Linked DNA regions of Homo sapiens: all the other regions are linked to region 2. Evidence: fine-mapped expression QTL. A gene starts in region 2. Each other region holds a variant in brackets. All regions are shown on one strand. Distances are between the middles of the regions.

The links. PIP is the estimated chance that this variant, and not a neighbour inherited with it, causes the effect.
Region 1: its variant is the best candidate, but not a certain one, in a credible set for the expression of SPTBN4 in pancreas (GTEx, PIP 0.78).
Region 3: its variant is the best candidate, but not a certain one, in a credible set for the expression of SPTBN4 in pancreas (GTEx, PIP 0.84).
Region 4: its variant is the best candidate, but not a certain one, in a credible set for the expression of SPTBN4 in prefrontal cortex (ROSMAP, PIP 0.63).

The regions. Positions count from the first base shown.
Region 1 is chr19:40,536,854-40,544,954 of GRCh38, forward strand. All of the region lies in intron 20 of SPTBN4 (spectrin beta, non-erythrocytic 4), which reads left to right. Among named protein-coding and RNA genes, the nearest start is that of SHKBP1, 36 kb to the right of the region's middle. The variant G/T (reference allele first, on the strand shown) is at 3,495.
Region 2 is chr19:40,462,753-40,470,853 of GRCh38, forward strand. SPTBN4 (spectrin beta, non-erythrocytic 4) reads left to right here and starts at 4,249. Exons shown (of 36, transcript NM_020971.3): 1 at 4,249-4,553. It overlaps BLVRB (biliverdin reductase B), which reads right to left and starts at 2,993. Exons shown (of 5, transcript NM_000713.3): 1 at 2,858-2,993. The coding sequence starts at 2,936. RefSeq lists an enhancer at 2,067-2,186 and a silencer at 3,208-3,407.
Region 3 is chr19:39,914,313-39,922,413 of GRCh38, forward strand. It overlaps FCGBP (Fc gamma binding protein), which reads right to left. Exons shown (of 36, transcript NM_003890.3): 4 at 3,760-4,330; 5 at 873-1,477. Among named protein-coding and RNA genes, the nearest start is that of FCGBP, 16 kb to the right of the region's middle. The variant T/C (reference allele first, on the strand shown) is at 3,700.
Region 4 is chr19:40,547,898-40,555,998 of GRCh38, forward strand. It overlaps SPTBN4 (spectrin beta, non-erythrocytic 4), which reads left to right. Exons shown (of 36, transcript NM_020971.3): 21 at 1,292-1,516; 22 at 2,341-2,430; 23 at 6,250-6,528; 24 at 6,619-6,749. Among named protein-coding and RNA genes, the nearest start is that of SHKBP1, 25 kb to the right of the region's middle. The variant ATC/A (reference allele first, on the strand shown) is at 3,487.

The sequences.
Region 1 (8,101 bases), 74 kb after region 2:
CGGCTCACTGCAGCCTCAACCTCTGGGGCTCAAGTGATGCTCCTCCCTCAGTCCCGCAAGTAGCTGGGACTACGGACCCACACCACCATGCCTGATTGATTTTTTTTTTAAGAAACAGAATCTCACTATGTTGGCCAGTCTTTATCTCTATTTATTGAACTAAAAAAAAAAACTAAAACGGAGTCTGGCTCTGCCACCTAGGCTGGAGTGCAGTGGCTTGATCTCAGCTCACTGCAGCCTCTGCCTCCTGGGTTCAAGCAGTTCTCCTGCCTCAGTCTCTGGAGTAGCTGGGATTACAGGCCTGTGCCACCAAGCCTGGCTAATTTTTGTATTTTTAGTAGAGATGGGGTTTCAGCATGTTGCCCAGGCTGGTCTCGAACTCGTGGCCTCAGGTGATCGGCCTGCCTTGGCCTCCCAAAGTGCTGGGATTACAGGCATGAGCCATGGCATCCAGACTGTAGTTCTCTTTCATGTCTAGAATAGAAGAGAGCTAGCTTCTCCCATCCGTGTCTGTATTCAATCCATTTCACTAGCACAGGTCATCAGGTCTCTGAAAAACACTGCTGCATGCTGGAGAGAGAATGAGAATGGTGAAGGCAAATAACATCTTAGTATTTTTATAAAAATAGTTGTAACCTTGCAGATGCCTTGAAAAGATCTCAGGGATCCCCCAGGGGTTCCTTGGCCACAGTTTGAGAACTGCTGATGTACACAATGTGCTGGGCACTGTTAACTCCTCTCTCCTCCCCAACAGCCCCATGAGGGAGGTCCTGTTATTATCCCCACCCAGCAGAAAACCACAGCACAGAAAGGATCTGTGGCTCACAGAGGTCACATGGCTACCAAGTGGCTATTCAATACCACCTTTAGTCCCTCCCTGAGCCTCTGTCCTCCCTCTTAAATAGGACTCTATCATCAGTGCAGGTCTCCCAGGGCCAGGTGGGGATGTGCACAGAAAGGAGCCACTTAGCACAGTGCCCAGGATGTGGTAAGCCTGCAAGAAAGGGGCATCTGACTGTCAGGGTCCCAGCCAGAAACAGAAGCAGGCTCACCTGCAGAAAACTTGAGTTTCTTGACAAAGGTGTGAGTGGAGAACGGGGAAGCTGCAGGAAGCATATAGGGCTGTGGGACTCATGGAGGGGAGCTTTTGCTCCTCCCTAGCCAGAGAAGGTAGAGAAGGAAAAGTTATTGGAACTTGGAAGGGGAGAGTTGCCAGACAGGAGCTGGCACTCTTAGTCAAGAACGGCAGCCATGGCCAGACGCAGTGGCTCACGCCTGTAATCCCAGCACTTTGGGAGGCCAAGGCGGGTGGTTCACTTGAGATCAGGAATTCAAGACCAACCTGGGCAACATGGCAAAACCCCGTCTCTACTAAAAATACAAAAATTAGCCGAACGTGGTGGCACATGCCTGTAATCCCAGCTACTCGGGAGGCTGGGGCATGAGAATCGCTTGAACTTGAGAGGCGGAGGTTGCAGTGAGGCAAGATTGCACCTCACTGCACTCCAGCCTGGGTGACAGAGTGAGACTCTGTCTCAAAAAAAAAAAAAAAGAGAAAGAAAGAAAGAACGGCAGCCAGACCATGGCACCATAGCAGGGAAGAGCTGGGGAGATAATACCCCAGACTCACTTTCCTCTGGGCTTCCCTTTGTCAGCCAGGGCTGGCTTCATGGGTGTTTGCCCGTGCAGTGACACAGGGCTCCATGCTTGGTTTAATGCCCTACTATTGATGTCTTGAATTTTTTTGTTTTTGAGGCAGTTTCTACCTCTGTCACCCAGGCTGAAGTGCAATGGCGTGATCATGGCTCACTGCAGCCTTGAACTCCTGGACTCAAGTGAACCTGTCACCTCAGCCTCCTGAGTAGCTGGGACTACAAGCGTGTGCCACCACGCCCAGATAATTTTTGTAGTATTTTATAGAGACGGGGGCCTCACTGTGTTGCCCAGGCTGGTCTCAAACTCCTGGCCTCAAGTGATCCTCCTACGTTAGTCTCCCAAAGTGCTGGGATTACAGGGGTGAAGCACTGCCCCTGGATAAAATTCTTAATAAATATTTGAACAAGGGACCTTGTGTTTTCATTTTGCACTGAAAAGTATAAGCCATGTTTGAGGCCAACCCACATGGAAGCCAGAGGACAGGAGGGCTGGTCCATGCAGGTCAGTCCTGCACAGGGCAGGGTGAAGAAGCTTGGACTATGGGTCTCAAGATCCCGGGCTGAAGCATCCATCCACCTCGGCCTCCCAAAGTGCTGGGATCACAGGCGTGAGCCACTGCCCCAGCCTATTGCTAGGATTCATAATTATCTTGCAGTGATTACTAATTCTTCCCCAGCAGTGTTTTGCAGTGGCTGAAGGCACAGACTTGGGACTCCAGCAGGTCTGGTTCTGAGTCACAGCTCTCCCACTTGCTGCCTTCGTCTCTCCCTCTGAGCCTTGGATGCCTTCTCCTTGCAATGGGAAGGACCTCAATGCTCACCCCCTGGTGGATAGCAGGAGTGTGGGAAGCAGCAGAGCATCTCAGTGAAGGGCATGGATGCTGGCGCTGGGCTGCCTGGGTCAAGCCCTGGCTCTGTGCCTTATCACCTGGATAGCCCAAGGAGGTTACTTTTCTCTCCATGCTTCAGTTTCTTTTTCTTTTTTTAAGAGGGAGTCTCACTCTGTTGCCCAGGCTGGAGTGCAGTGGCAGGACCTCGGCTCACTGCAACCTCCGCCTCCTGGCTTCAAGTGATTCTCCTGCCTCAGCGTCCTCCTGAGTAGCTGGGATTACAGGCACCTGCCACCACGCCTGGCTAATTTTTGTATTTTTAGTAGAGACGGGGTTTCACCATGTTGGCCAGGCTGGTCTCAAACTCCTGACCTCAAGTGATCCACCCACCTCCGCCTCCCAAAGTGCTGGGATTACAGGCATGAGCCACCGCGCCTGGCTGTGCCTCATTTTCTTCTTCAGTAAAATGGGCATAATGATATTTCTGACCTCATAAGGACATTGTGAAGGTGAAAAGACATAATGCATTAAGTGGTTTCAGAACTGCTGACCCAACAAATCTAAGATTCAGTATTTATTCACAGGTCTTTAATTTTTTTTTTTTTAGACCAAGTTTTGTTCTTGTCACCCAGGCTGGAGCGCAGTGGCACAATCTCGGCTCACTGCAACCCTCTGCCTCCTGGGTTCAAGTGATTCTCCTGCCTCAGCCTCCCGAGTAGCTGGGACTATAGGCACCCGCCACCATACCCGGCTAATTTTTGTATTTTTAGTAGAGATGGGGTTTCGCCATGTTGTCCAGGCTGGTCCCAAACTCCTGACCTCAAGTGATCCGCCCGCCTCGGCCTCCCAAAGTGCTGGGATAATAGGCATGAACCACCGTGCCTGGCCAGTCTTTAATTTTAACTGTCATAAAACTGAGAGCATATCACCATCACTCTACTGTTTTCAAAAGCTAGTTGTTTCACCTTCCCTTTGGTTGTTACTTATGTGATACACGGTTACTTCATTT[G/T]TTTTTGTTCATATTCCATTTGGGGCATTTACCCCTCTCCATGCTGCTTTTTAATTTTAATTTATTTTTATTTTTTGATAGATGGGGTCTCACTATGTTACCCAGGCTGGTCACAAACTCCTGGGCTCAAACAGTCCTCCTGCCTTAGCCCCTCAAAGTGCTGGGATTATTCGCGTGAGCCACTGCACCTGGCCCCAAAACACATTTTAAAAAAGCAACATGGATGATTGGGCACAGTGGCTCATGCCTGTAATCCCAGCACTTTGTGAGGCCAAGGCAGGAGGATCGCTTGAGCCCAGGTGTTCCAGACCAGCCTGGGCAACATAGCGAGATTCACATGCCTGTGTTCCCAGCTACTCAGAAGGCTGAAGTGGGAGGATCACTTGAGCCCAGGAGGTTGAAGCTGCAGTGAGCTGTGATCGTGTCACTGCACTCCAATCTGGTCGACAGAGTGAGACCCCCATCTCAAAAAAAAAAAAAAAAAAAAAAAAAAGAAAAGTAATTTGGAGGTGGTAAATGAAATATTTATATAGTGTTAAAAGTTAGAACCATCTTTAGCTCACTTGCTTTTGCCAAATTGCCTGCCCAGGTCCTTCTGTGGCTGCTCACTCTCTCCCCAGCAGTACACATGAGCTCCTGTTTCCTCTCGTCCTTGCCAACACTTGGTTTTGTCAGACATTTTAGATCTTTCTCAGTCCGATGGCTGGGAAGTGGTATCTCACTGCAGTGTGTGTATTTGTATTTTTTTCCAATGCTACTGGCGAGCTTGACCATCTTTGACCTTCTTTTGTACTATTTAGGTTTTAGAGGAAGGAGTTGGGGCCTCCTGCTTTAGCCAGAGTACAGAGTTAGCTCTTCCCTCCCTGTAGGGGGTTCAGTCTCAACCAAGCCCAGCAAACCATGAGATGGGGGTCCCCATTGTTCAAGGGAGGGGCTGAAGCCCAGAGGAGACAAGGGAGTGGCCCTGGGGTCACACAGTGATGGGTGCCAGAGGCAGGCTCCAGCACGAGACTCCTGGGCCCTTTTCCCAGCAGAGGGAGCCCGAGGCAGGAAGTGACTGTGTGGGCCAGGGCACCCAGACGGAGCCCAGCTGCCCCTCAGGAGCTGCTACTGGGGAAGGGACCTGCCAAGGCCCTGCTGTCCCCTGGGGCATACACAGGAGAGGGGTTGGCTGCCATCCAGCCTGGCACGTTTCCTGGCTGTCCCATCCACCCTTAGGGCACTGGGGCCAGGCTGGGCTGAGGGAGGTACTGGCTCGGGGTCTGAGGGGTGTAGTGGTGTGCAGTGTGTGAGCGATCTGTCCCCCTCAGCCTCTCTCCTGTCCTCCCGTCGCCATCTCTGTGTCTCTCTCTTCCCTTTGTGTCCCTCTCTGTCCTACTCTCTCACTCCCTTCTCTCTGTCTCTTTATTTATTTTGAGACAGAATCTTACTCTGTCACCCAGGCTGGAGTGCAGTGGCGCGATCTTGGCTCACTGCAATCTCCGCCTCCCAGGTTCAAGCGATTCCCCAGCCTCCCCAGTAGCTGGGATTACAGGCACCCGCCACCATGCCTGGCTAATTTTTGTATTTTTTTATTTTTATTTTTTCTTTTTGAGACGGAATCTCACTCTGTCACCCAGGCTGGAGTGCAATGGCACAGTCTCAGCTCGCTGCAACCTCCGCCTCCCGGATTCCAGCGATTCTCCTGCCTCAGCCTCCCAAGTAGTTGTGATTACAGGCGTGAGCCACCACGCCCGGCTAATTTTTGTATTTTTAGTAGAGATGGGGTTTCACCATGTTGGCCAGGTTGGTCTTGAACTCCTGACCTCAGGTGATCTGCCTACCTTGGCCTCCCAAAGTTCTGGGATTACAGGCATGAGCCACCACCCCAGTCTCTCTGTCTCTTTTTATTTGACTTCTCTGTCTCTGCCTCCTTCCCGTGTTCCTCATGTCCTCCTTGTGTCCTCTCCCTCATCCCGTACCACACCCGCTGCTGCAGCAGGCTCTCTGGGACCCCACCTCCCAGGTCCTGGCCACGTGACCCAGAATCCTCTCTCGGGGCCTGTTGCCAAGCTGTGCTTCCTGGCCAAGAAGCCAGATGGTGGAGTCTCAAGTCCTGGCTCCCCAGCCCTCAGGGACCTGGCCAGCTGGTCGGCCTCAGCCACAGGCTCCTGCTTGGAGAGATGGGGGACTGGTCTCCTGCCAGATGAGAAAATGCACTAGAGGCTTTGCAGCTGCCAGGCTCTGTCCCTGGGGACCCCACACTTTTTCCAGGCCCACCCCCACCCTAAGCAAAGCTCTTTCTCTGGCCAAGGAAACACCCTCCTCCCCCCTGTTCTGCTTCTCTGTCCCATGTTTTTGTATCCAGCTCAGCATGGCCTAGGAGAGGAGTGCACATTCAGGGACTATACAGTCCCAGTCCTTGCCTTATTGGGACTCAAGGCAAGGGACCCCATCCTTTCTTTCTTTCCTTTTTTTTTTGTTTTTGTTTTTTTGTTTTTTGAGACAGAGTCTCACTCTGTTGCCCAGGCTGGAGTGCAGTGGCGCGATCTCAGCTAATTATGTCTTCATAATTCACAAATTATGTCTTCAATTTATGAAGGTGCTGGCTCGGGGTCTGAGGGGTGGAGTGATCAGTAACTCAAATTACGTCTTCACAAATCTCCTTGTCTTCATTTCTGAGCACCGCTTTCTTCTGTGTTGGCCTCATGGTCAGGGAGTCCCTGATGTTGGCAGGATGACCCCAGGATGCCCGGCCTACCTCCTCCCAACTTAGGAAGCCCATGGGAAAGAGAGCATCTCTTCTGTGCACACACATTTTCCTGGCGAAAATGGGGAGAGTGGCCGGGCACAGTGGCTCACACCTGTAATCCCACACTTTAGGAGGCCAAGATGGGAGGATTGCTTGAGGCCAGGAGTTGGAGACCCGCCTGGCCAACACAGCGAGACCCCACCTCTACCAAAAAAGAAAAAGTGGGAAGAGTTTTCATTGGCCCATCTAAGGTTACGTGCTCATATCTGACCCAATCTTTATGACCAGGGTGTTTTCAGTGTTCTGCTTGGCCCCACTTGGGTCATGTGATTACCCATGACTCTCTAGGTTTCATTTGCCCTTCAGGAAGCTCAGGACCTGAGAGTGAGTTTTGATGTATTTGGAAGGAGAGGATGGATTTTGGGCAGGCAAAACCAACAACTCTGCACTACAGAACTTTGAATCAAGAAGTCTTGGCTTGGTTCTTGAGTTTGGGGTTTTGTTTTGCAGTCATTTGTGGTAATCTGCTACCACTTAATTTTTTAATTGTTATTTTGTTTTCTTCTCTAGCTTTCCTCCATCTGTTTAGAATTACAAGGGTAATATATGAATATATTCTTTTGGGAAAAAATTTTACTAACCGAGCAGTCTTCAGTAAAACATAAAGTCTCACTCCTATCTGCCTCCCAATCCCACATCCCAAAGAGAGCCTCAGTTATTTGGTGTGCATCCATCTAGACCTCTTTCTGTGCATTTACAAGTGTACCTATATGGATGTTTAATGTTTTTATATTATTTGCTTTTCATGTTTAATTTCAATTTTTGAATAAATAAATTTTCATGGTGAAGACATCAAAACCTCTAGGGAAATCCCATGGGAAAATTATCGCCTTCATCCCTGTTCCCCATTCATTAAGTTCTCATCCCCTCCCCCAGTAAGTACCATCTGTTATGAACTTCTTGTTTACTCCAGGGAATTTTTATGCATGTGCAATCCACTATAAATTTATATTCATAGGTAGGTTCTAAATTGCTTCTTCTTCTTCCTCTTTTTTTTTTTTTTTTTTGTTTGTTTGTTGTTGAGACTGAGTTTCGCTCTTTTTGCCAAAGCCGGAGCGCAATGGCGCGATCTCAGCTCACTGCAACCTCCGCCTCCCGGGTTCAAGCAATTCTCCTGCCTCAGCCTCCCAAGTAGCTGGGATAACAGGCGCCTGCCACAATGCCCGGCTAATTTTTTGTATTTTTAGTAGAGACTGGGTTTCACCATGTTGGCCAGCATGGTGTCTATCTCTTGACCTCGTGATCCGCCCGCCTCAGCCTTCCAAAGTGCTGGGATTACAGGCATGAGCCATTGTGCCCGGCTTTTTTTTTTTTTTTTTTTTTTTTGAGATGGAGTTTTGCTTTTGTTGCCCGGGCTGGAGTGCAGTGGCATGATCTCGGCTCACTGCAACCTCTGCCTCCCGGGTTCAAGTGATTCTCCTGCCTCAGGCTCCCGAGTAGCTGGGATTACAGGTGTCTGCCATCACGCCTGGCTAATTTTTTGTGTTTTTAGTAGAGATGGGGTTTCACCATGTTGGCCAGGCAGGTCTCAAACTCCTGACTTCAGGTGATCCACGCGCCTTGGCCTCCCAGAGTGCTAGGATTACAGGCGTGAGCCACCGCACCCAGCATGCTTTTTCTTCTTAACAGTAACACTTGGCTATTTTTCCATACTGGTCTGGATTTGTTTAACCATTTTACTCTTTTTTATTTTTTATTTTTTTTTAAGAGAGGGGGTCTAGCTGTGTTGCCCAGGCTGGTCTCAAACTCCTGGGCTCAAGCATTTCTCCCACCTCAACCTCCTAAGTAGCTGGGATTACAGGCATGAGCTGCTGCA
Region 2 (8,101 bases):
CATGGTGGCAGGCGCCTGTAGTCCCAGCTACTTGGGAGGCTGAAGCAGGAGAATGGCTGAACTCGGGAGGCGGAGCTTGCAGTGAGCTAAGATTGTGCCACTGCACTCCAGCCTGGGCGGCAGAGTGAGACTCTTGTCTCAAAAAAAAAAAAAAAAAAAAAAAAAAATCAGCCATCAATACAAAAAATTTCATTGCCTAACCTGGTGTACACAAACGCATACATATATAATTAAAATGAGTTTCACAAAACTAATACTTAACATGTGATACATTTTGATACTATGTCATCATTTGTTACCCTATATTGTTGATACACGTTGTGACCATATGTTTCAGATCTCATTGTAACTCACAGTTTGAGAAGCATCAGGTTGCAACAACCCTGCAAGGTAGGTATCATTATCCTGTCCACATTGATGGGGAAACTGAGGCAATTTTAGGCAACCGGGCCAGGATCACACAGCTAGTAGGTAGAGAAGGTTGAATTTTTACCTAAGTAAGTCTGATCCAGAGACTGCAAAATTCAATGCTAGTCTAAGTACCTCCTATATAAGATCTCATTTAATTATCCCAAGAGCCCTAGGGCAAGTACTACCAGTTTTGTCATGATCTTACACATATCTAGGTACACAGATGACAAGGCATTTGGTCACAAAGGCTGTAAGCCGCAGAGCTGGTGACTTGAATGTGGGCAGGCTGGCACCAGAGTTCATGCCTGTTAAGACTCTTGGCCCTACAGAACCATTGTGAACTCCAGTTAATCCAAGCCCCTTCTCCCTCCCTCCCTCCCTCCCTCCCTCCTTCCCTCCCTTCTTTCCTTCCCTCCCTCCCTCCCTCCATCCCTCCCTCCTTTTCTTCCTTCCTTCTTTCCTTTCATCTTGCTGTGTCACCCAGGCTGGAGTGCAGTGGTGCAGTGATGCAATCTTAGCTCACTGCAACCTCCCAGGTTCAAGCGATTCTTGTGCCTCAGCCTCCCAAGTACCTGGAATTACAGGCACGTACCACTGTGCCCAGCTAATTTTTTTTTTTTTGAGACAGAGTTTCACTCTTGTCGCCCAGGCTGGAATGCAGTGGCGTAATCTCGGCTCACCACAACCTCTGCCTCCCGGATTCAAGCTATTCTCCTGCCTCAGTCTGCCAAGTAACTGCGATTACAGGCACCAGCCACCATGCCCGGCTAATTTTTCGTATTTTTAGTAGAGACGGGGTTTCACTATATTGGCCAGGCTGGTCTCGAACTCCTGACCTCGTGATCCACCTGCCTCAGCCTCCCAAAGTGCTGAGATTACAGGCGTGAGCCACCGCACCCAGCCTCTTTTTCTTTCTTTTTATGTATTTTTTTAAATTTGAGAGACAGGGTCTCACCCTGTCACCCAGGCTGGAGTGCAGTGGTGCAAACACAGCTCACTGTAGCCTTGAACTCCTGAGCTCAAGCAATCCTCCCACCTGAGCCTTCTGAGTAGCTGGGACTACAGGCATGCATCACCACGCCCAGCTAATTTATTTTTTTTTTGTATTTTTGTAGAGATGGGGTCTTGCTACGTTGCCCAGGCTAGTCTCAAACTCCTGGCCTCAAGCCATCCTCCCGCCTTGGCCTCCCAAAGTGCTGGGATTATAGGCATGATCCACCGTGCCTGGCCAGCCCTTCCCTTTGCTGAGGGGGACAGCAAAGCTGAGAGCTGGGAAGAGATTTTTCAGAGCCACAGCTCTGAAGCTCCCTAGGCTCCAGTTCTTAACCCTCTGAGTGCAGTCCCAGCTATGACCAGCAGGGTGGGCGAGTGGAATTCGGTGGAATTAGTGGATTTCCAGGTGACTCAGCGCCTCTCAACTTCTCTCTCTTACTTCCTTCTCCATTACTCCCGAATAAATGCTTATCAGCAAACTGGTTTTTACTGAGAGGCCCACAGCTCCCCATTCTCCACAAGTCAAGATCCTCACGTGGTCTCCCTGGGGAAGGGGAGAGTTATGGACCTAGAGAAGAACTTTCAGAGTCCCTCCAAGGGAGACAGCAGAGTGGGGTCCTGTTGGCCTCCACCCTTTTGGGGCACGCAGATAGTCAATATCTTCAGCGTCCCCAAGGCCTGCAAGGGTGGGGCCCCATATCTGGAAGTCCCAGGCCCAGCTGGGAGTTGGTCAAGTCTGGGCTGTGGGGGCAGGGAGTGCTGGGGGATGGTTATCCCCTTTTCTGCCCTCTCTCCTGGGGCAACTCCAAATTTTCAGCCCTCATTGACTTTCCCAGGACTGCTGTCCCCAAGTCTTCACTCATGTCTCTCTGTGACTCCTTCCCATTAGGTACTCGCAGCAACCTGACCCCCCAACTTTTTCAGTTTCCAGCCTGGGGACTTGTGGTGGTTAAGAGCATGAGCTGAGTTCAAATCCCAGTCCTGTCAGTTAACAGCTGTGTGATATTGGGCAAGTCACTCTCTGGGTCTCAGTTTTCTCATCTGTCAAGTAGGGTGATACTAGTTCCCACCCCATTTTGAAAGCTCTCATGTGAAGAGACGACAGAGCAAGCTTGGCTTAGTAAATCCTCTCTGGGAGTGCGAACAACCACCACCACAACCACAATAATGACAACCGCATTGCATAAGAGCCCTGGACTTACACACGACTGTGCCAGTGGAGTCCTCCCGGGGCTCCCGGGGCCAATTCCTCTCTGGCTTGGACTCACATAAACTTGGATCTCACATCTTTCCCCATTTCTGCCCCCGTGGCCACTTGCTTTGGCCCCTGAGTCCTCATACACCTGGCTGGGGCGCTCATGGCCCCAATCAGCCTCGGCCCGACCCCATGGTGCCCCTTCCTAAAGTTCTGCCCGTCTGTCCCGTGACATGCCCCGCCCGCCCCGGCTCATGCCTGCTTGCACCGCCTGCGCCAGGGTGGTGAGCCCGGTCTGGCCAGTGGCGCCGAAGATCGCGATCTTCTTGACGGCCATCGTACGGGATCGTGGGGGTGCAAGGCCTCAGAGTCTCGGCACGCGCGGGAACCCACTGGCTGCTGGGCGGTGCTCTCTGCCCTACTCAAGCCAGGAACAACGGGGCGGAGCTGGCTCGAAGGGCCACGCCTCAGACTCTCCGCCCGCGGCTCAGGTCAAGGGGCGGGGCCTAACGCGGATGGGCGGGGCAGGCGTCAGCTTGCATTCGCTCACCGTCCAGCACCGCCCTCTCTGCGCGCCACTTAGACTGGAAGGCGGGGCCACAGAAGGCCACGCCTCCACATAGCAACAAATAGAGTGGACGGAGCCGAGATAACTTGTCACTCAGCGCCCTGCCTCCGCGCTCCACCTCCCGGAGAGGGGCGGGGCCAGGCGAGCCTCACCCACGGCCTCTCGTAGCTCACGCCCCCTCTCCCGGAGCCTGGAGCGGATCTGGGGCGCACTCTAAGCCCCAGGGCCTCCCAGAACCAGCAAGGGGAGAAAGTTAGGAGGACAGAGTGTGTGTGTGCACTTGGATGTAAGACACTGTGTCACGGCGTACCTATGCACTTATATGACCCTGTGTGACTCAGTGACCCGGAGGGCAAGCAGGACTGTGGGTGACACCTTGTGTCATCCTCTGAGTGTGATCCCGTGTTACAGTGTGACTACACGTGCGTGACACCACGTGTGGCAGGCATTGATTCTGTTCTTTTGTGACCTTGTGGTGACACCGTGGGTGACACTGCGTCAGCCTGTACGATAGGGTGTGGGACGTGTGAGGTGTGCTACATGGAAGCGTGAGACTAATTAGACTGTGACAGTGTGTGACACCACATGTCTCGTGTAAGGATGTGTGACACCGGGACCCCATTCGAGTGTGTGGCTGTGGGTGTCTGTGTTGAGCTGCTCATTGTGACCCCCTGTGACTATGATGTGTGAGGTGCGGCGGTGCAGCATGTGCGGGGCGACTGCTATGAAGGTTCGAGTGTGTAGAGTGTGTGACACTGTGGCTGTGAAGCTGTGCGTGATGTGTGGGCCTATGACACTGTTTGTGACTGCCGGGGAGTGTGCGGCTGTGTGTGACAGGTGCATTTGTGTGTGACGCCGCGTGGGCGGTGGTTACCCTATTGGATTTGTGTGGTGGTGGGTGACACCGTTCCAGTGTGGACGCCGCGTGTGACGGCGTGAGGGTGTGACCCCGTGAGACCCCACAGGAGGGAGTGACGGCGCGCAAGCGCGTGGATGCGGGGGTGAGTTTGTGCGCCGAGGCCCCCGCGAGTATGGCAGCGTGGCGAGCGTGACCCCGTGGGAGTGTGCAGCGCGTGACGCCGCCGTGCCCTCGCGAGTGCAGCCGTGCACCCCACGCCGCGGCCGGGTGTGACTGCGCGTGGGCCTCGGGCGGCGGGGCGCGGGGACCGCGGGCGGGAGGGGGTCCCGGGGGCGCGCTGAGCGCGGCGGCGGCGCGAGAGAGGGAGGCGCGGCGGCGCATGCGGATCTGGCTGAGCCGCGGGCCGGCGGGGCCGAGCTGAGCCGGGCTGGGCCGGGCCGGGCCGGGCCGGGCAGCGGACGCCGACAGGGAGGGCGGTCGGTCGCGGCGAGCAGCGGAGACAGCGACGCTGGCGGCCGCGGGCCCAGGTGAGCTGCTAGGGGGGCCGACAGCCCCTCCCCCAAGTATGTCCCCACCTGGCGAGCATCCCTCCTCCGCGCGCACGGGGCATGGCTGGAGCCCCGGGTCTCCCCGGCTGGAGGGAGGCAAAGGGTCGAGGGCAGGACGAGCCCACAACCCCCCCACCCGGTCTAGCTTCCGCGCCACGCGTGGGTCTTACCCCCAGGCCTTGTCCTTCCCAGGCCCCCTCCTTGGGCGCAGTGTCTGGACCGCAGGGAGAGAGGCGCGGCCTGGGAAGGGTTAAAGCCTCTGATGCCACCGCAGCCCAGCGCCCCACCAGCCTTTGCGGGGGGGGGGGGGTGTTGGGGGGAGGCTCGCAGGACACCCCTTCCCGGCTTCCCTATTACCTGCTCCCTTCCTTCCCATTCAATCGCGTTATGGCCAGAGCTGATCCTCGGCCTGGCCAGAGGGCTAACAGGAGTGCTAAGGGCCTCCCCATCTCTAAGTGTCTTCCACTGAAGAAAACAGCTGTAACCACCGTTTAACAGGGAGGGAAACTGAGGCACAGAAAGGCCAAGTTAAAGATACTCGGTTAAAGATACAGCAAGAATAAAGCGGAACTTGAACTCATTTCTGTCTGACTCCAGAAGAGGCAAATCGATTTGCTGAGATGTGTGAGGAAAAGATGAAGAATAATAGCAAGGAACATGTATCAAGGGCTTGCAGTGTACCAGATACCATGATCCCTGCATTAATAACTTACCTCTTCAAACACCGCTAAGAAACGGGTACGATTATCATTACTTTTTTTTTTTTTTGAGACGGAGTTTCACTCTTGTCACCCAAGTTGGAGTGTAATGGCGCGATCTTGGCTCACTGCAACCTCTGCCTCCCGACTTCAAGCAGTTCTCCTGCCTCAGCCTCCCAAGTAGCTGGGATTACGGGCATGAGCTACCATGCCTGGCTAATTTTGAATTTTTAGTAGACATGGGGTTTCACTATGTTGGTAAGGCTGGTCTCCAACTCTTGACCTCAGGTGACCCACCCACCTCCTTGGCCTCTCAAAGTGCTGGGATTATAGGCGTGAGCCACCGCCTGGCCTACCCTTTTGTGTGTGTGTGACAGAGTTTCATTCTGTCATTCAGGCTGGAGTGCAGTGAGTCAATCTCAGCTCACTGCAACCTCCATCCCCCAGGTTCAAGCGATTCTCCTGCCTCAGCCTCCCAAGTAACTGGGACTACAGACACGTGCCACCACGCCTGGCTAATTTTTGTATTTTTTTTAGTAAAGACCGGGTTTTGCCATGTTGGCCAGGCCGGTCTCGAATTCCTGGCCTCAAGTGATCCACCTACCTTGACCTCCCAAAGTGCTGAGATTATAAGCATGAGCCACCGTGCCGGGCCATCATTACTATTTTGCAGATGAACAAACTAAGGCCCAAAGAGTGGAAGTATTTCAGCCAAGGTCACACAGGTGGTAGGTAGCTGTGTGCTCACTTTCACTTTTCCATGGAAGGAGGGAAGAACAAAAATGGATTTGGGACTGGGCACAGTGGCTCACATGTGTAACCCCAGCACTTTGGGAAGTTGAAGTGGGCAAATAGCTTGAGCCCAGATGTTTGAGACCAGCCTGAGCAACATAGTGAGACCCCCTCTCTACAAAAAATACAAAAATTACCTGGTCATGGTGGAGCTTGCCTCTAGTCCCATCTACTCAGGAGGCTGAGGTGGGAGGATCGCGTGAGCACAAGAGTTGGAGGCTACAGGGAGCTATGATTGTGTCACTGCACTCTAGCCTGGGTGATAGAGCAATACCTTGTCTCAGAAAAAAAAAAAAGATTTCAATGTGTCCCCCTAAGGGACAATTTCCACTCTACTCACTCTACTGACCAAGACTTAGACCCTGCCTTCCTAGAATTCAGTGGGTTGGCAATTGTCTGGGTCTTTTGAGGACATTGATCTCCCAACTTCCTCCTTTGTTAGTCTTTTTTTTTTCCTTTTTCTTTTGAGAAGGAGTCTTACTCTGTCGCCCAGGCTAGAGTTTAGTGGCACAATCTCGGCTCACTACAACCTTCGCCTCCCGGTTTCAAGCAATTCTCCTGCCTCAGCCTCCTGAGTAGCTGGGATTACAGGCACCTGCAACCTTGCCCACCTAATTTTTGTGTTTTTAGTAGAGATGGGGTTTCACCATGTTGGCCAGGCTGGTCTTGAACTCCTGACCTCGTGATCCACCCGCCTCAGACTCCCAAAGTGCTAGGATTACAGGTGTGAGCCACCACGCCCAGCCGTTAGTCTTAGAATCAGGCCTGGGGGCCCAGAAGGTAAAGGAGATACATCTAATGTCACTTAACCCTTTAAATTTCTTCTCTTTTTTTTTGTTTTTTTTGAGATGGAGTCTCACTCTCTCACCCAGGCTAGAGTGCAGTGGTGCGATCTCGGCTCACTGCGACCTCCGCCTCCTGGGTTCAAGCAATTCTCCTGTCTCAGCCTCCTGAGTAGCTGGGATTACAGGCATGTACCACCATACCCGGCTAGTTTTTATATTTTTAGTAGAGGCGGGGTTTCACCATGTTGGCCAGGCTGGTCTGGAACTCCTGACCTCAGGTGATTCACCCACCTTGGCCTCCCAAAGTGCTGGGATTACAGGTGTGAGCCACTGTGCCCGGCCAATTTCTTCTTTTTTTAAATAATTTTTTGTTTTCTATTTTTTTATTTTCATTTAATTTAATTTTATTTTTTCTGAGATGGGGTCTCACTCTGTCGCCCAGGCTGGAGTGCAGTGGCACGATCTCAGCTCACTGCAACCTCTGTCTCCCAGGTTCAAGCGATTCTACTGTCTCAGTCTCCTGAGTAGCTGGGATTATAGGTGCACAATGCCATGCCTGGCTAATTTCTTGTATTTTAGTAGAGATGGAGTTTCACCAAGTTGCCCAGACTGGTCTCGAACCCCTGAGCTCAGGCAATCCACCCGCCTTGGCCTCCCTAAGTGCCAGGATAACAGGCATGAGCCACCGTGCCCGGCCTATTTTTATTTTTTTATTTTTGTTTGAGATGGTGTCTCGCCCTGTTGCCCAAGCCGGAGTGCAGTGGTGCCATCTTGGCTCACTGCAACCTCTGCCTTCCCAGGTTCAAGCGATTCTCCTGCCTCAGCCTCCTGAGTAGCTGGGATTGCAGGCATGCACTACCATGCCCAGCTCATTTTTGTATTTTTAGTAGAGATGGGGTTTCACCATGTTGGCCGGGCTGGTCTTGAACTCCTGACCTCAAGCGATCTGCCTGCCTTGGCCTCCCAAAGTGCTGGGATTACAGGTATGAGCCACTGTGCCTGCCCCCTCCACTTTAAATTTTTCTTCTTCTTCTTCTTCTTTTTTTCTTGAGAATGAGTCTTACTCTGTCGCCCAGGATAGAGTGCAGTGGCACAATCTCAGCTCATTGCAACCTGCGCCTCCTGGGTTCAAACGATTCTCCTCCCTCAGCCTCCTGAGTAGCTGAGATTACAGTAGCCCGAAACCACACCCAGCTAATTTTTGTATTTTCAGTAGAGACCGGGTTTCACCATGTTGGCCAGGCTGGTCTCG
Region 3 (8,101 bases), 550 kb before region 2:
ACCCTTCAATTCACTCACCTCCAGCTACCCTGACCTCCTTGCTATTCTCTTGGACATATTACGCTCAGTCCCACCTCGAGGCCTTTGCACTTGCTGTTCCCTCTGCCTGGCTCACCATTCACCCCTCTTCATTCCTAAAGCACCAGCTTAAATCCAAATCCCTCACCCATGGCCTTCAAAACCTACATGATCTGTCTATCTCCCCATTACCTCCCTCGCCTCACCTCTTCTCACTGTCCCTCTCACTCAGGCTGCTGCAACCATACTAGCTTTCTTTTCTTTTTTTTTTTGGACAGGGTCTCACTCTGTTGCCCAGGCTGGAGTGCAGTGGCACAATCTTGGCTCACTACAACCTCTGCCTCCTGGGTTCAAGCGATTCTCTCTCAGCCTCCCTAGTAGCTGGGATTACAGGTGTGAGCCACTGCACCTGGCTAATTTTTTTTTCTATTTTTAGTAGAGAGGGGGTTTCACCATGTTGGCCAGGATGGTCTCAAACCTCAGATGATCCACTCGCCTCAGCCTCCCAAAATGCTGGGATTACAGGCGTGAGCCACGGTGCCCAGCCACTAGCTTCCTTTTTAAAATAGAGACAGGGGTCTCACTCTGTCACCCAGGCCAGAATGGAGTGGCACGATCATAGCTCACTTCCTAGCACTTCAGGAAGCTGAGGCGGGAGGGTCACTTGAGCCCAGGAGTTGGAGACCGGCCTGGGCAACTTAGTGCGACTCCGTTCTGCACAAAAAGGAAAAAGGAAAACGAAAAAAATAAAATCTTCTAACAGGCCTCCCCCACCCTCAGGCCCATCCAGAACTCCAAGTCTTCAGAGGGTATTTCCTGCTCCGTCACCCAGCCCTGGGCGCCACGTCGCTCACCAGCACTTGCCCGGGGTACTCCCGGCGCACGGCCACCTTCACCCCGCGGGCCTCCACCCGCACGGCGCGCGTGTAGCTCACAGTCTGGCTGCCCCGATGCTCGTTTTCCACCAGCACCCGGAAGGCAGGCAGCGCTGCGTTCTGGCCGCATGAGCCGACCAGCAGGTACGTGCAGGTGCCCATGAAGTCGAAGCGCCGGCCGTCGAAGCTCACATAGTGTGGGTCCCCGGACCCCTGGCAGGTCCCGAAGCGATCGGGGTAGCAGCCCAGGAGGCCGTTCTGGACGCTGCAGCGCTCACCCGCCGGGCAGCTCTGCTTGTCGCGGCAGGTGACCTGATGGGTGGCGCCGTTGCAGGTGCAGCGCCTTTGGCACAACTCGTCCGCCCACACTTCCTGGCCCGGAGCGAGCTGGAGACCCTGGAAGGTGCAGCCACACGACGAGGCCGGCACGCAGGCGCCGCCGCTGGCCACGAAGCCTGGGAGGCACACGCAGCCCTCCACGCAGGGGCGCCCGGAGCAGTTGGACGGCGCCGCAGCCCCGTTGCAGGAGGTCGGGCAAGCAGGGCCGCAGAGCTCATAGCGGCTGTTGGCAGGGCAGGACAGGGCTGCGGGGAGATCAGAGAGGGTGGATCAGGCCCGCGTAGCAGGGGCCGTCGAAGAGCGCCCTGTCGGGGACGGCGCCCAGGAATTCCATCCCCAAACCCTGCTCCTCTCTCAGAGCTCGCCATCTCAGATAATGGCACTGCCATTCTTCTGGGTGCTCCTGCGCCACACCCCAGCGACGCAGTTAATCTCCACCCCGCCAACCCCCTAACGCTCACTGGACAACCAATCTGTCAGCAAGTCCTGTGAGCTCCATATTCAAAATCTACCCAGATTGGCCGGGAGTGGTGGCGCAGGCCTGTAATCCGAGCTACTCAAGAGGCTGAGGCAGGAGAATCGCTTGAACCCGGAAGGCGGAGGTTGCAGTGAGCTGAGACCACACTACTGCACTCCAGCCCGGGCGCAGAGCAAGACTTTGTCTCAAAAAAAAAAAAAAAAATCCACCCAGTTACAGAATCTGCCTCTGATCCTATCCACCGCAGCAGCCTCCTGCCTGGGCTCCCTCCTGCCCCCACAGCCTGTTCCTCACACCAGGCCGAGGAATCTGGGAACATCTGGGTCAGATCAGGTCCCTCCCCATCTCAGAGCACTACTGTGGCTTCCTCTCACTCAGGGTAAACGCCAGAGTCCTCCCCATGCCTCAGGAGGCCCTGTGCCATCTGTTCCTCTCACCTCTCAGCCCTCACCTCTTCTCCCTCTCCCTCGGGCTCACTCTGCCCCAGCCCCAGCTGCCTCCTCCTCCCGGGTCCTCACCCTCCCACCTCAGGGCCTTTGCATTGGCTGTTCCCTCTGCCTTCCCTTTCCCCAGAAAGCCCACTGGGGCCCAGGTGGCCTGGGTTCAGATCCCAGATCTCTCCTTCTCGGCCACTGACTCCAATCTCCCCGTGCCTCAGTTTCCCCATCAGTAAGATGGGATAATGTAGTCGAGACCTCACAGGGTTGTTGTGAGGATTAAATGAGTTGATCTATGGGGAAACATTCTGTGGACATCACTGTTAGTTAGTACTTAGCTGACTCCATTGCCTGACCCTGGTCTCAGCTCCAATGTTACCTGCCCAGAAAGGCCTTCCCTGATCACCCTCTTCACGAGCCTCACAGTCACTGTCATTGAATGAACTTGTTTCTTTGCCTCTCTGAAGATACTTCCTAGTTCATCTGCTCACTGTCTGTGTCCCTCCCCTGCCGCTAAGAGAGAAGTTCTGCGGGAGTGGGGACCTGATCTGTCTCAATCACTGCTGAGTCCCCAGCACCAAGGACAGGGCCTGGTACGCAGCAGGTGCTCAGGAAATACTGCAGAAGTGAAAGGGAGAATAAATGAACTCTCTGATTCCTATTTTGCGCCAGGCATGGGGTTGGGGGGGTGCTTACTGGGCAGTGGGGACACAGAACTGGCCAAGACAAACACCTAGTGGCCTCTATGTCTGCCCTGTACTTACTCCCCCTCCCTCTGGGCCTGGGCCTGGATGCCTCTTCCTCCCTCCTACCTGTCCTTTCTGCCTCTGGGACATGTCTCTAGGAGCCTCACTCACAAGGGCAGGAATAGATTTATGCTGGTCTTCACTGTGTCTTCAATATCATTAGCATGCACAGGGGGCAGGCAGGGGTTCAAGGAATGCTTGTGGAATGAATGAGTGAACGATTAAGCAGACGGACACCTGGCTAAAGAGCCTGGACTTTATCTAGAGGGCAATGGGAGTCATGGGAGGGCTATAGGCAAAGGAAGAGACGTCACGTCTCTGTGTTGGGATTCTGCAGACAAGAATTCCCGTCCTGCCAAGCCTTTGAGCATGCTGTTCTCTGGGCCTGCAACTCACTTCCTCCTCTTTCTCTTGGCAACTTCCAGCCCCTCTTATGGGTTTCAAATTGGACATCTTTCTCTAGAAAACCCTCCCTGACCACCCCTGCTCCCCAGGCTGGGCCAGGAACCTCCTCTGGTTTCCCATAGCCCCACTGACTTCCTCCATCCTGGCCCCAACCCCTCTGCCTGTGTCCCCCGCAATCCCAGCCCTGACTCATCTGCCTGTCTCTCTCCCATCCTGGCCCCAACCCATCCGAGTGGGCCTCCCCATCCTGCCTGGACCCCTCCAGACTGTCAATGTCTAGTGAAACGTCTCTCCAACCTTAGGCTCATTGTGGACAGAGCTGGCTGTCTTGGCCATCACTAGGCCCCTGGCATTGCCCAGCACCAGGCTGAACCATAATAACTTCTCAGATATTAAGCAGA[T/C]GCTAGGGATCTCCTGCCCCTCACTGTATGCTCCCAGCCCCCACCCAGGGCATCACTCACGGCAGTTGGCTGGTGATCTCCAGTCCCCAACCGAGATGCCAAGCTCCAGACAGGCCTGGGCATAGGCGCTGAGGCCACGGCACAGGCTGAGCCGCTCCCCACCGACCACACACAGGTCATATACACACTGCTCCAGGAAGGGCCTGGGGTCCAGGGTGTCATGGCAGACAGCGAAGGGGCCATCGAGCTTGGTCAGCATGCCACAGAGTCGGTCGCCCTCATAGTGTTGGGCCTGGCCTGGGGTGCAGGCGGGACAGTTGTTCTGGCAGCCATCCTCACACAGGTAGTCCCCATCATCCAGCTTCCAGCTACTTGCGAACTCCACAGCGTCAGGAGCCAGAGCCCCGTCAGGCGTGAGGAAGTCGTCTGCTGGGTCACCATTATAGTTGCCACACAGCCCGCACACCTGGTCTTGGAAGCGTGCAGGCAGGCTGAGTGCCAGCTGGCAGTCCCAGTCATAAGTGACCACCAGCCCAAAGACCAGCTCCACCACGGCCCGTGGTCCGCTCTGGTACACACGCAGGCGACCCTCACTCAGGGAGACTGGCAGGCGCGAGCGCTGGTTGTCAACCTGCAGAGTGGGTGAAGAGGAGGTGGTCAGGCCCCTGTGCCATCTGGCCTCCAGCCCTCATTAAAGTACTTTTTAATTAAAAGTTTTAAATAGGAGAATATAGAAAAAGAGTATGTGCTCAAACGTCACTGACTCAAGCCTTCCCTGACTGCCCTATTTTATGATTTTATTTTATGGTTTGTTTGTTTTGTTTTGTTTTATAGAGATGAGGTCTTGCTATGTTGCCCAGGCTGATCTCAACTCCTGGCCTCAAGCAATCCTCCTGCCTCAGCCTCCCAAAGTGCTAGAATTACAGGCATGACCCATGGGACCCAGCCTACACCCCTTTTTAAATGGCAGCCTTGGGCCGGGCGCAGTGACTCACACCTGTAATCCCAGCACTTTGGAAGGCTGAGGCGGGTGGATCACTTTATGTCAGGAGTTTGAGACCAGCCTGGTCAACATGGTGAAACCCTGTCTCTACTAAAAATAAAAAAATTAGCTGGGTGTGGTGGGGCACGCCTGTAATCCCAGCTACTCAGTTGGCTGGGGCAGGAGAATTGCTTTAACCCAGGAGGTGGAGGCTGCAGTGAGCCAAGATCGTGCCAAACAGAGTGAGACTCTGTCTAAAAAAAAAAAAAAGGCAGCCTCTCCCTATTCCATAGCCTCCTTCCCTGCTTTCCTTTTTTTTCTATAGCATCTGGCCTTCTGAAATATAATTCACAAATTGACCATGTTTATCATCTGTCTTACTCCATCAGAATGGCAGCTCCACAAAGACAAGGGTTTGGGTCTGCTTTGATCACTGCTTTATCCCCAGTGCATAGAACAGGGCCTGGTAGAATCCCAGGCACTCACTAAGTGAATTAAGTCACTGCTGCATTTAATAAACATTCACTGGGCACTCACTCTGTGCCTGGCCTTGAGCTGGGAGATCCTGGGAATACGAAGGTGGCGGAGACAGCCCCAAGCCCTACCCTCATGGGGCTCCCAGTCCATTGGGAGAAACAGACACATCACCAGACAGTGAGAGCTCAGAGGGGTCAGGGCAGAGATGGGAGAAGCACAGGCAGAAAAGTCAAGGCCAGGATCAGAAAGGCCCAGGCAGAGGGGTCAAGGATGGGATAGGGGAGGTACAGGCTGAGGGTTCAGAGCTGGGATAGTGGGGAGATAGGAGGCTGTGAAAACCTAGAAAAATGGCCAGATCTAACCTTGCTGGTCAGGGATGTTGAAATCTTAACACCCAACATGATGGTATTAAGAGTGGGGGGAGGCCTTTGGGAGGTGATTAGGTCATGAGGGTGGCACCCTCATGAATGGGATTAGTGCCCTTATGACAGAGGCCTCAGAGAGCTCTCAGATCCGCTTTCCACCGTGTGAGGATACAAGGAGAAGTAGGCCATCTGCAACCTGGAAGAGCACCCTCACCTGAACCTGGCAGTGCTGGTGACCTCATCTTGGACTTCCAGCCTCCAGAACACAGAGACGAGGTTGTGTTGTTTATAAGCCTCCCAGGCTCTGGAGAAGCCTGAAGTCTGACTAAGAACCAGGAGATAAGAACTATGTCTCTCTGTGCCCTGGGGCATCTTTTTTTTGAGATGGAATCTTGCTCTGTCACCAAGGCTGGGCTGCATTGGCACGATCTCGGTTCACTGCAACCTCTGTCTCCCAGGTTCAAGTGATTCTCCCACCTGGGATTACAGGTGCCTGCTACCACGTCCAGCTAATTTTTGTATTTTTAGTAGAGATAGGGTTTCACCATGTTGGCCAGACTGGTCTTGAACTCCTGACCTCAAGTGATCTGCCCACCCCTGCTCAGCCTCCCAAAGTGCTGGGATTACAGGCATGAGCCACCGTACCCAGCCTTTTTTTTTTTTAATTAATAAAAAAATTTTTTAAATTAGATATGGGGGTCTCACTATGTTGTCCAGGCTGGTCTGGAGCTCATGGCTCAAGCAATCCTCCCACCTCGGCCTCCCAAAGTGCTGGGATTATAGGTGTGAGCCACCGCACCCAGCCTGGGCATCTCTTTCTTACTCTTTCCTTACACATTCTCTGAGCTGTGCCAGAGCTGAGACTTGAAGTGGAGAAGTCTTAGCCAAGAGGATGGAATATGATAAAAGGAGCAACAGGAGAGAGGACAGCATGAGCAATGGCCCAGAAGGAAGACAGAGCATTCACTCATTCCGGCTCCCAGCAAAGCTTCTGTGAGTCCCACTGTGTGGCCTGCTCTGTGCCAGCTGGTGCTTTAGACACTGCAGTGATGGAGACAGGCCATGGCCCCATGCTCAGAGCTCTCAGTCCAGCATGGCTGCTCAAATCTGTTTCTCCCCTAAGTCCAGTGATCTCCATTTTAATTTTTCTATTTTTTTATTTATGTATTTTTTTGAGACAGTTTTGCTCTGTCACCCAGCCTGGAGTGTAGTGGCAGCATCATAGCTCACTGCAGCCTCGACCTCCTGGGCTCAAGCCATCTTCCTGCCTCAGCCTCCCAAGTAGCTGGGACCATAGGCAGGCGCCACCACACCCAGCTATTTTTTTTTTTTTTTTTTGGTAGAGATAGGGTCTCCCTATGTTGCCCAGGCTGGTCTCAAATTTCTGGGCTCAAGTAATCTTCCAGCTTCAGCCTCCCAAAGTACTGGGATCACAGGCGTAAGCTACCATGCCCAGCCAATCTCCATTTTTAAATGACACAAATAATATTCGTTCATTACAGAAAACTGAAAATGCACAGGAGCAAAAATGAGAAAAGAAAATCACCCTGTAGGCAGACACATACAAATGTATAGATCCTGTTGAGTTTTTTCCTACCTTTAGATATATTTACACTTAAAAAAAAAAAGACCATGCTGAAGTCACTATTTCATTAACTCCTCTCCTAACAATGTCTTGTGAGTATCCTACTATGATTCTGACAGTAGCTCTGCACCTTTGTCAAGTCACTGACCTCTGTGAGGATCTGACGGAAAAAAAAATGAAAGGCCGGGTGCGGTGGCTCATGCCTGTAATCCCAACACTTTGGGAAGCCGAGTTGGGCGGATCACAAGGTCAGGAGATCAAGACCATCCTGGCTAACACAATGAAACCCCAGCTCTACTAAAAATACAAAAAATTAGCCGGGCGTGGTGGCATGTGCCTGTAGTCCCAGCTACTCGGGAAGCTGAGGCAGGAGAATCGTTTGAACCCAGGAGGCGGAGGTTGCAGTGAGCCGAGATCACGTCACTGTACTCCAGCCTGGGCAACAGAGCGAGACTCCGTCTCAAAAAAAATAAAAAGTAGTTTTCAGAGAGAGGTATAAAATTCTGTATATAATTTCAAGGGATCTGAAGTCCGCCTGAACTTGTGCTCAACCCCTCCAGGGCTGAAGAACACCTCCTTTCACCAACTGATTATTAATCGCAGAGATCTACCTGCACACTCACAAAATCAGGGAGGTACAAGAATATTTATTTCAGGTCAGATACAGGGGCTTACGCCTCTAATCCCAGAACTTTGGGAGGCCAAGGTGGGAGGATCACTTGAGACCAGGAGTTCGAGACTAGCCTGGGCAACATAGCAAGACCTTATCTCTACTAAAAATAAAAATACTTAGCCCAGTATAGTGGCATGAGACTGTAGTCCCAGCTACTTGGAAGGCCAAGGCTGGAGGATTGCTTGAGCCCAGGAGTTTGAGGTTGAAGTGAGCTATAATCACACCACTGCACTTCAGCCTGGGCAACAGGGCAAGACCTTGTCTCAAAAAAAAAAAAATCAAAAAAATATTCATTGCAGTATTGTTTGTAATAGTGAACA
Region 4 (8,101 bases), 85 kb after region 2:
ACATTATAAAAGCATTTGCCCAGGTTTTCTTTTAGTGCCTTATGGATTTACTTACTCTGTTTAGGTCTTTAATCCATCTGGAATTGTTTTCAGTACAAACAGCAAGGAAAGGATCCAGCTAAATTGGTTAGCCATTGGCCCATGACCATTCATTAAATAATCCATCTTTCCCTTGGGGATTTGAATTGGCACCTATGAAACACATGAATTTTCCTGTGTATTTGGGTCTGCTTTTGCACTTTCTGTCTATTCCTAAGACACAGCAGCCATCCAAATTACTATAGCTTTGTATTTATTTTTGATAATTTCTTACTATCAAATTTTTTTATCCGGTAATCCCAGCACTTTGGGAGGCCAAGATGGGCAGATCACTTGAGGTTATGAGTTTGAGACCAGCCTGACCAACATGGTGAAACCCCATCTCTACTAAAAATACAAAAAAAATTAGCAAGGCATGGTGTCAGGTGCCTGTAGTCCCAGCTACTTGGGAGGTCAAGGCACAAGAATCACTTGAACCTGGGAGGTGGAGGTTGCAGTGAGCTGAGGTTGCCCACTGCACTCCAGCCTGGATGACACAGCACCCAGGCTGATTTGTTCATCCTGAGGTCAGGAGTTCAAGACCAGCCTGGCCAATATGGTGAAACCCCATCTCTACAAAAATACAAAAATTAGCCGGGCATGATGGCAGGTGCCTGTAATCCCAGCTACTCAGGAGGCTGAGGCGGGAGAATCACTTGAAGCCAGGAGGTGAAGGTTGCAGTGAGCCAAGATTACGCCATTGCACTCCAGCCTGGGCAACAGAGCGAGACTCCATCTCAAAAAAAAAAAAAGCGTTAACAAAAAATTATTACTATATTTGATGGTAATAATTTTGGAAAGTTGACTCTTTGGACAAATTCTTTAACTTCTCTTGGCCTTGGTTTCCTCCTCTGTAAAACAGGGAGACTACCAATCTTGAAGGTTGTTCTGGGAATTAGTGAATTAATGGACCACTTTAGTTCCGGGGTCAGGTAAGCCTCTTTGAGAAGGTAATACTCCAGCTGAAATCTGATTGACAAGGAAGAGCATGCCTGGCAGAGGAAACAGCAAAGGCAAAGGCTCCGAGGCAGGGACTAGCTTAGTGTGATGCAGGTTCATGCGGAGCGCATCGCTCCTGGAGGGGACTGAACAAGGAGAGGGTGGAAGGGTGGGCCGCGGTGAGGGGTCTGGCTGTCACCATAAGGGTACTGGAGAGCCACAGCAGGATCAGGAGGGCGGGTGGGGCCCATTGACCCTGCCTCTGTCCCCACAGTCCATGGAGTCGCAGGTGGAGGAGTGGTACCGCGAGGTGGGAGAGCTGCAGGCGCAGACGGCGGCGCTGCCGCTGGAGCCGGCGAGCAAGGAGCTGGTGGGTGAGCGGCAGAACGCGGTGGGCGAGCGCCTGGTGCGCCTGCTCGAGCCGTTGCAGGAGCGCCGCCGCTTGCTGCTGGCTTCCAAGGAGTTGCACCAGGTGGCGCACGACCTGGACGACGAGCTGGTGAGGCCAGCGCAGGGGCCTGGGGCGGGGCGGGGCGGGGCGGTGGGGCGGAGAAGGTGGGCATGGGGCGGGGCTGAAGATGGAGACGGCTGAGACCCTCCCACTCATACGCTGAAAGACGCATTCAGCCGTTCACTCATTCATTCATTCACACTCATTTACTCACTTTGAATCATTCGTTGATTTATTCATGAAGTCACTCATTTATTTATTCACTCATCCATAGTTTGTTCTTTCCTCCACTCATTTATTTACTTAACTATTCATTCATTCACTCCTCTGTTCCTCATTCCATCACTCAATTTCCTGATTTGCTCATTCATTTGTTCACTCAGTTGATCATTCTAGCCCCAGCCCTGTGTTTGGATGATAGTGGGGCCACAGGGGTGGCCAAGGCAGACCCCATTGTGCCCCAGAGGGTTCAGAGTCCAACGGGGAAAACAGACTTGTCCCCAGACAGTGACAATTCAGGGTGGTTAGGAATATGATAGGAAACAAGACCTGTATGTGCAAAGGCCAACGGTGTGAGCCTGGCTTAAGTGCAGACAGCAAGAAAGAGTATGTCAACAGAGGAGACTGAGACAGGTGTGGTGGTGCCTGTTGTCCCAGCTACATGGGAGGCTGAGGTAGGAGGATTATTTGAGCCTGGGGATTCGATCCCATCTCAAAGAAAAAAAAAAAACAAAAAATGGAGGAGGCTGAATATTCAACTGGGCTCTTAGGCAAGGAAGGGCCTGGGATGCCGTGCAGGTTTAAAGTTTAGTTGCGATGCAGGGGTTCTTGGATGCATTCTCCCCTTGACCTGCTTCCTGTGTCCTCTCCAGGCATGGGTTCAGGAGCGGCTGCCACTGGCCATGCAGACAGAGCGAGGCAACGGTTTGCAGGCGGTCCAGCAGCACATCAAAAAGAACCAGGTGAGCAGAGCCAGGTGAGGGAGCGAGTTAGGACATTTGGATACATGTGATAGAAACAGCTGAAGGTGGTTAAAGCCAAAACAATGAATGTATTGGCTTTTGGAATTAACAAGACTGTGGACAGCAGATACAGATGTATCCAGGTGCTTCCATATATTTTCATGACTCTTGGCTCTATTTTTTTTTTTTTTTTGAGATGGAGCCTTGCTTTGTTGCCCAGGCTGGAGTTTAGTGGCACAATCTTTGCTCACTGCAACCTCCACTTCCTGAGTTCAAGCGATTCTCCTGCCTCAGCCATCCAAGTAGCTGGGATTACATGTGTGCACCACCACACCTGGCTAATTTTTGTATTTTTAGTAGAGATGGACGGCGGGGGGTGGGGTGTTTCACCAGGTTGGCCAGGCTGGGCTCGAACTCCTGGCCTCAAGTGATCCACTCGCCTCAGCCTCCCAAAGTGCTGAGATTACAGGTGTGAGCCACCGCGCCCGGCCTGTTTGTTTTTCTGCATGAGCTTTCTTCTTAGGCCAGTCCTCCTCTCCTGGTGATAAAAGGCCTCCAGTGGATTCAGGTTTACCTCCCACCAGCAAAACTGAAGAGAATTTCCCACCTCAATAATGTCAGCAGTAGTCTCAGGAATAACTCTCATTGGCTCACCATGCCCATGGCATCCCACGCCCATCCCTGAACTAATCATGATGGATGGGGTTTCGGACTGCTCCTTGGGCTGGCCTGGTTAAGCGCCCTCCCCTGGAACCTGCTGCTGGAATCAGCCTTAGCTTAATTACCAAGGCTGAGATGGAGGCAAAGGGGGTTTCCCAAAGGAAAATCAGGGGCTTGAGACTAGAAGGAAGGGGAATAGCTATTGGACAAGGAAAAAGTAAAACAACAACAAACAAAATCACAAAACATCGAGTTAGCCTGGTGTGATGGTGTACCCCTGTAGTCCCAGCTACTCTGGAGGCTGGGGAGGGAGGGTCCCTTGAGTCCAGAGGTCAAAGCTGCAGTGAGCCTTGAACACCCCACTGCACTCCACCCTGTGCAACAGAATGAGACCCT[ATC/A]TCTCTCTCTCTCTCACACACACACACACACACACGTCCCCCAAAACAAACAAACAAAAACACCCATAGGGACAAAGGACAGAGATAATCAGCAAGAGGATACTACTGCCCCCTAACCTGAGCAAGGTGGGGGAGGGGGCCTTTGAGCTCCTAAAAAATCTCTGAATCTGTTCATTCCTCTGGGGCTCAGTTTCCACATCTAAAGTAGAGTTGGTTTAGAGCAGTGGTTCTCAAACTGCATACGAAGGGAACCCCTTGGTCAAAGCAACTATTTCACCAAAGCCTAAAGCAAGACATAAAAGAGGAATAATAATAATAAGGCATTGTGCCAGGTGTGGTGGCTCATGCCTGTAATCCCAGCACTCTGGGAGGCCAAGGCAGGATGATCACTTGAGCCCAGGAGTTTGAGACCAGCCTGGGCAACATGGGGAAACCCCGTCTCTACCAGAAATACAAAAATTAGCTGAGCATAGTAGAAGGTGCCTGTAATCCCAGCTACCTGGGAGGCTGAGGCAGGAGAATTGCTTGAACCCAGGAGGCAGAGGTTGCAGTGAGCCAAGATCACACCACTGTACTCCAGCCTGGGTGACAGAGTGAGACCCTGTCTCAAAAAAAAAAAAAAAACATCGATTAAAGATTTACTAAGTGCTGGCTGGGTGCAGTGGCTCATGCCTGTAATCCCAGCACTTTGGGAGGCTGAGGTGGGTGGATCACCTGAGGTCAGGAGTTCGAGACCAGCCTGACCAACATGGTGAAACCCTGTCTCTACTAAAAATGCAAAAAATTAAGGCCAGGTGCGGTGGCTCACGCCTGTAATCCCAGCACTTTGGGAGGCCGAGGCGAGTGGATCACGAGGTCAGGAGATCGAGACCATCCTGGCTAACACGGTGAAACCGCGTCTCTACTAAAAACACAAAAAATTAGCCGGGCGAGGTGTCGGGCGCCTGTAATCCCAGCTACTCGGGAGGCTGGGGCAGGAGAATCGCTTGAACCTAGGAGGCGGAGGTTGCAGTGAGCCAAGATTGCACCATTGCAATACAGCCTGAGTGTCAAGAGCGAGACTCCGTCTCAAAAAAAAAAAAAAAAAAAGATTAAAAAAAAAAAAAGATTTACTGTGTGCTAAGTACTGTCTTAGGGTTTATGCTGATTATTTAATTTAATCCCCTCTATAACCCTATGAGGTAGATATTGTCATTATCCTCATTTCACCAAACAATGTATGTTGGAAGAATAGGGCACTGAAGGATGGTGGGGAGGTGGGTCTACAGATTATTTTGGAAGCTTCCTGATCATTCTGCAGTAGGTAGAGTTATTTAAGAGACTGGAGTTTTGCTGAGATTTTGTTTTCCTGTCTTGATGAAAATACTCTTGGCTGTCAACAGTGTGGGCGACAGAACTGGCTTATCGTTGTCATGGTTGAGGAAACTGATCAAGTGCACTTAGTACTTAAAATTGGGGGAGCTCAGCTGTGTGTGCAGTGAGAGTGCTGGATACACAGGGGCTGTTAAGCCAAAAATAGCTGCAAATATGATGCATTTGGTGCATGCAGACTCAGTTCCAAGTGCTCCATAGTTTATCACCTTATAACAACCCCGCAAGGTAGATTATCTCAGCCTGATACTAGCTGTGTGACCTTAGCAAATTCCTCACCCTCTCTGTGCCTCAGTCTTCTCATCTGTAAAATGGAGATGGTAATGTTGTCTGGCTCCATAGGTTGGGAGTGAGGAGGTGTGAGGCTATATTATGTAAAGCTCTTACTTAGCAAAGCACCTGGCAGGTAGCAGGGTAGCAGACACTCAAGAATCGTTGGCTGGCCGGGCACAGTGGCTCATGCTTATAAGCCTAGCACTTTGGGAGGCCAAGGTAGGAGGATCGCTTGAGGCCAGGACTTCAAGACCAGCCTGAGTAACATAGCAAGACCTCGTCTCTCCAAAAATATTTTTTAAAATAGCAGGGCATGGTGGTGCACACCTGTAGTCCCAGCCGCTTGGGAGGCTGAGGCAGGAGGATCACTTGAGCCCAGGAGTTTAAAGCTGCTGCATTCCATCCTGGGTGATAGAGTGACACCCTGTCTCTAAAAAAGCAAAATAAGGAGAGGACTTGCTGGCTGTTATTATCTTTATCAGTTGAGTCACACAAAAAGTTAAATAACGTTAAGGCACACAAAAAGTTAAAAAAGACTCACAAAAAGTTAAATAAGGTACTCTGTAAGTAAATAAGGTTAAGGCACACAAAACGTTAAATAAGGTACTCTGCAAGTACAGAGCTGGTTGAGGGAACCTTCTGGGGGATGGAAGTGTTCCGCACGCTGATCTGGGCACACCGGTGTATGTGTCTGTACAAATGTGTGCAACTGTATACCTAAGATTTGTGCACTCTACCGTATACAAATGATACCTCGGCTGCTAAGCTGCAGGGTTTCTGTATTAGGGCCCATCTTGGGTCGGCAAGCGGCTTGGCTCAGAGCACAGTCTCTGGAACCAGCCTCCTGTGTTCAAATCCTGTCACTCCTTACTGGCTGCTTGTTCTTGGGCGCCGTACTTCGCCCCTCTGTGCCTGTTTTCCCACCTGCAGCAAGCATAGGGTTATGATGAGTGAGGGAGTATCAGCAAAATGTTTACATGGTCTTGGCACGTGGTTAGCGAGCTGGGGGTGCTTGTTAATTGCCCCGTGGGCCGTGCCAGTAGCAGAGGAGCGTGTGGTCTTGCAGGGCCTCGGAACGCCCCCTCTCCACCCACATCCCCTTACCTCCTGCCCCCAGGGCCTGCGGCGGGAGATCCAGGCGCATGGGCCGCGCCTGGAGGAGGTGCTGGAGCGCGCGGGCGCGCTGGCGTCGCTGCGCAGCCCGGAGGCAGAGGCAGTGCGCCGGGGCCTGGAGCAGCTGCAGAGCGCCTGGGCCGGACTGCGGGAGGCTGCCGAGCGACGGCAGCAGGTGCTGGACGCCGCCTTCCAGGTGGAGCAGTACTACTTCGACGTGGCTGAGGTGGAGGCGTGGCTGGGCGAGCAGGAGCTGCTCATGATGAGTGAGGACAAGGGCAAGGTGCGCCCGAGCTGGGGGTGCGGAGGGCCTGGGGGCGCTGGAGCCGGGGGCCGCCGCTGCCGCCTCATCGTGGGCGCTTTGTGCCCCCAGGACGAACAGAGCACCCTGCAGCTGCTCAAGAAACACCTGCAGCTGGAGCAAGGCGTGGAGAACTACGAGGAAAGCATCGCGCAGCTGTCGCGCCAGTGCCGGGCGCTGCTGGAGATGGGGCACCCGGACAGGTGGGCGGGCGCGTGGCCAGTTCACAGGAATGGTCCAGCAGGACCTGAAGCTTCGCTGTTGGGAGTTGGCGCAGCGCTGGAATTGGACGTTGGGTGGGAGAGGTCCTCCTTGCTGTGTGCTGGAGCCCTCGAATTTGGCAAGTGGGCGGGCCGGAATGGGGGGACACGGCTCAGGGATGGTTGAGAGGGTGGGGCCAGGAGCACCTGGATTTGAGTGTAGTAGTGGGGACCTTGTCGGGGGAGAAAAGAGTAGGCGATGTCTAGGACTGGGGTAGAGAAGAATTTACTCAGGACAGGCAAGGGGCTCTTTCTACTCAGTGTCTGGGAGGACAGAAAAGCCTGTGCTGAGATTGGCTATGGCGGTGGGGCTGGAGACCTCCTGGTGCAGTGGGGTGATGTTGCCTCGTGTAGGCGGATGCTGAGCTCCAGGCCTGGACCAGGGATGGAATCTGTAAGGAGGTACAGAGAGAGACCTCTGTCCAAGTGGGCTCAGAGATTGGGGCTAGAGGTGGGATGCATTGGCTGGGGACCCAACCTGGGAGTCCAGAGTCCCACCGAGGTTCCTGGATAGGAGGGGCGTGAGACTGAGATAGAAACCGGGTGAGGCTGCCGAGGTGGGCGGATCACTTGAGGTCAGGAGTTGGAGACCAGCTTGGCCAACATGGTGAAACCCTGTCTCTACTAAAAATAAAAAATTAGCTGGGCATGGTGGCACGTGCCTGTAGTCCTAGCTACTGGGGAGGCTGAGGCAGGAGAATGGCTTGAACCTGGGTGGCAGAGGTTGCAGTGAGCCGAGATCGCGCCACTGCACTCCAGCCTGGTGACAGAGCAAGACTCCGTCTCAAAAAAAAAAAAAAAAAAAGAAAAGAAAAAAAAAGAAAGGAAACTGGGTGAGGCTGGATAGAGGTGAGCTTATCCATTTAGGGAAGCGGAGCTTTCCCTGCATGCTGAAATGCAGGGCTTTCTGAACCCAAGACTTGCAGAAAACAGAGTCCTGGCCAGGTGTAGTGGCTCACACCTGTAATCTCAACACTGGGAGGCTGAGGCAGGAGGATCGTTTGAGCCCAGGAGTTTGAGAACAGAGGGAACATAGTGAGACCTCATCTCTACAAAGAAATCAAAAAGTTAGCCAGGTGTAGAGTCACGTGCCTGTGGTCCCACTTGGGAGGCTGCAATGGGAGGATTGCTTGAGCATGGGAGGTGGAGGCTGCAGTGAGTTGTGATCACACCACTGCACTCCAGCCTGAGCAACAGAGCAAGACCCTGTCTCCAAAAAAAAAGAAAAAAGAAAAGAAAACAGAGCTCTACCTGGGGACACAGCCGTGTCTGAAGATTCCAAGGAAACACAGCCC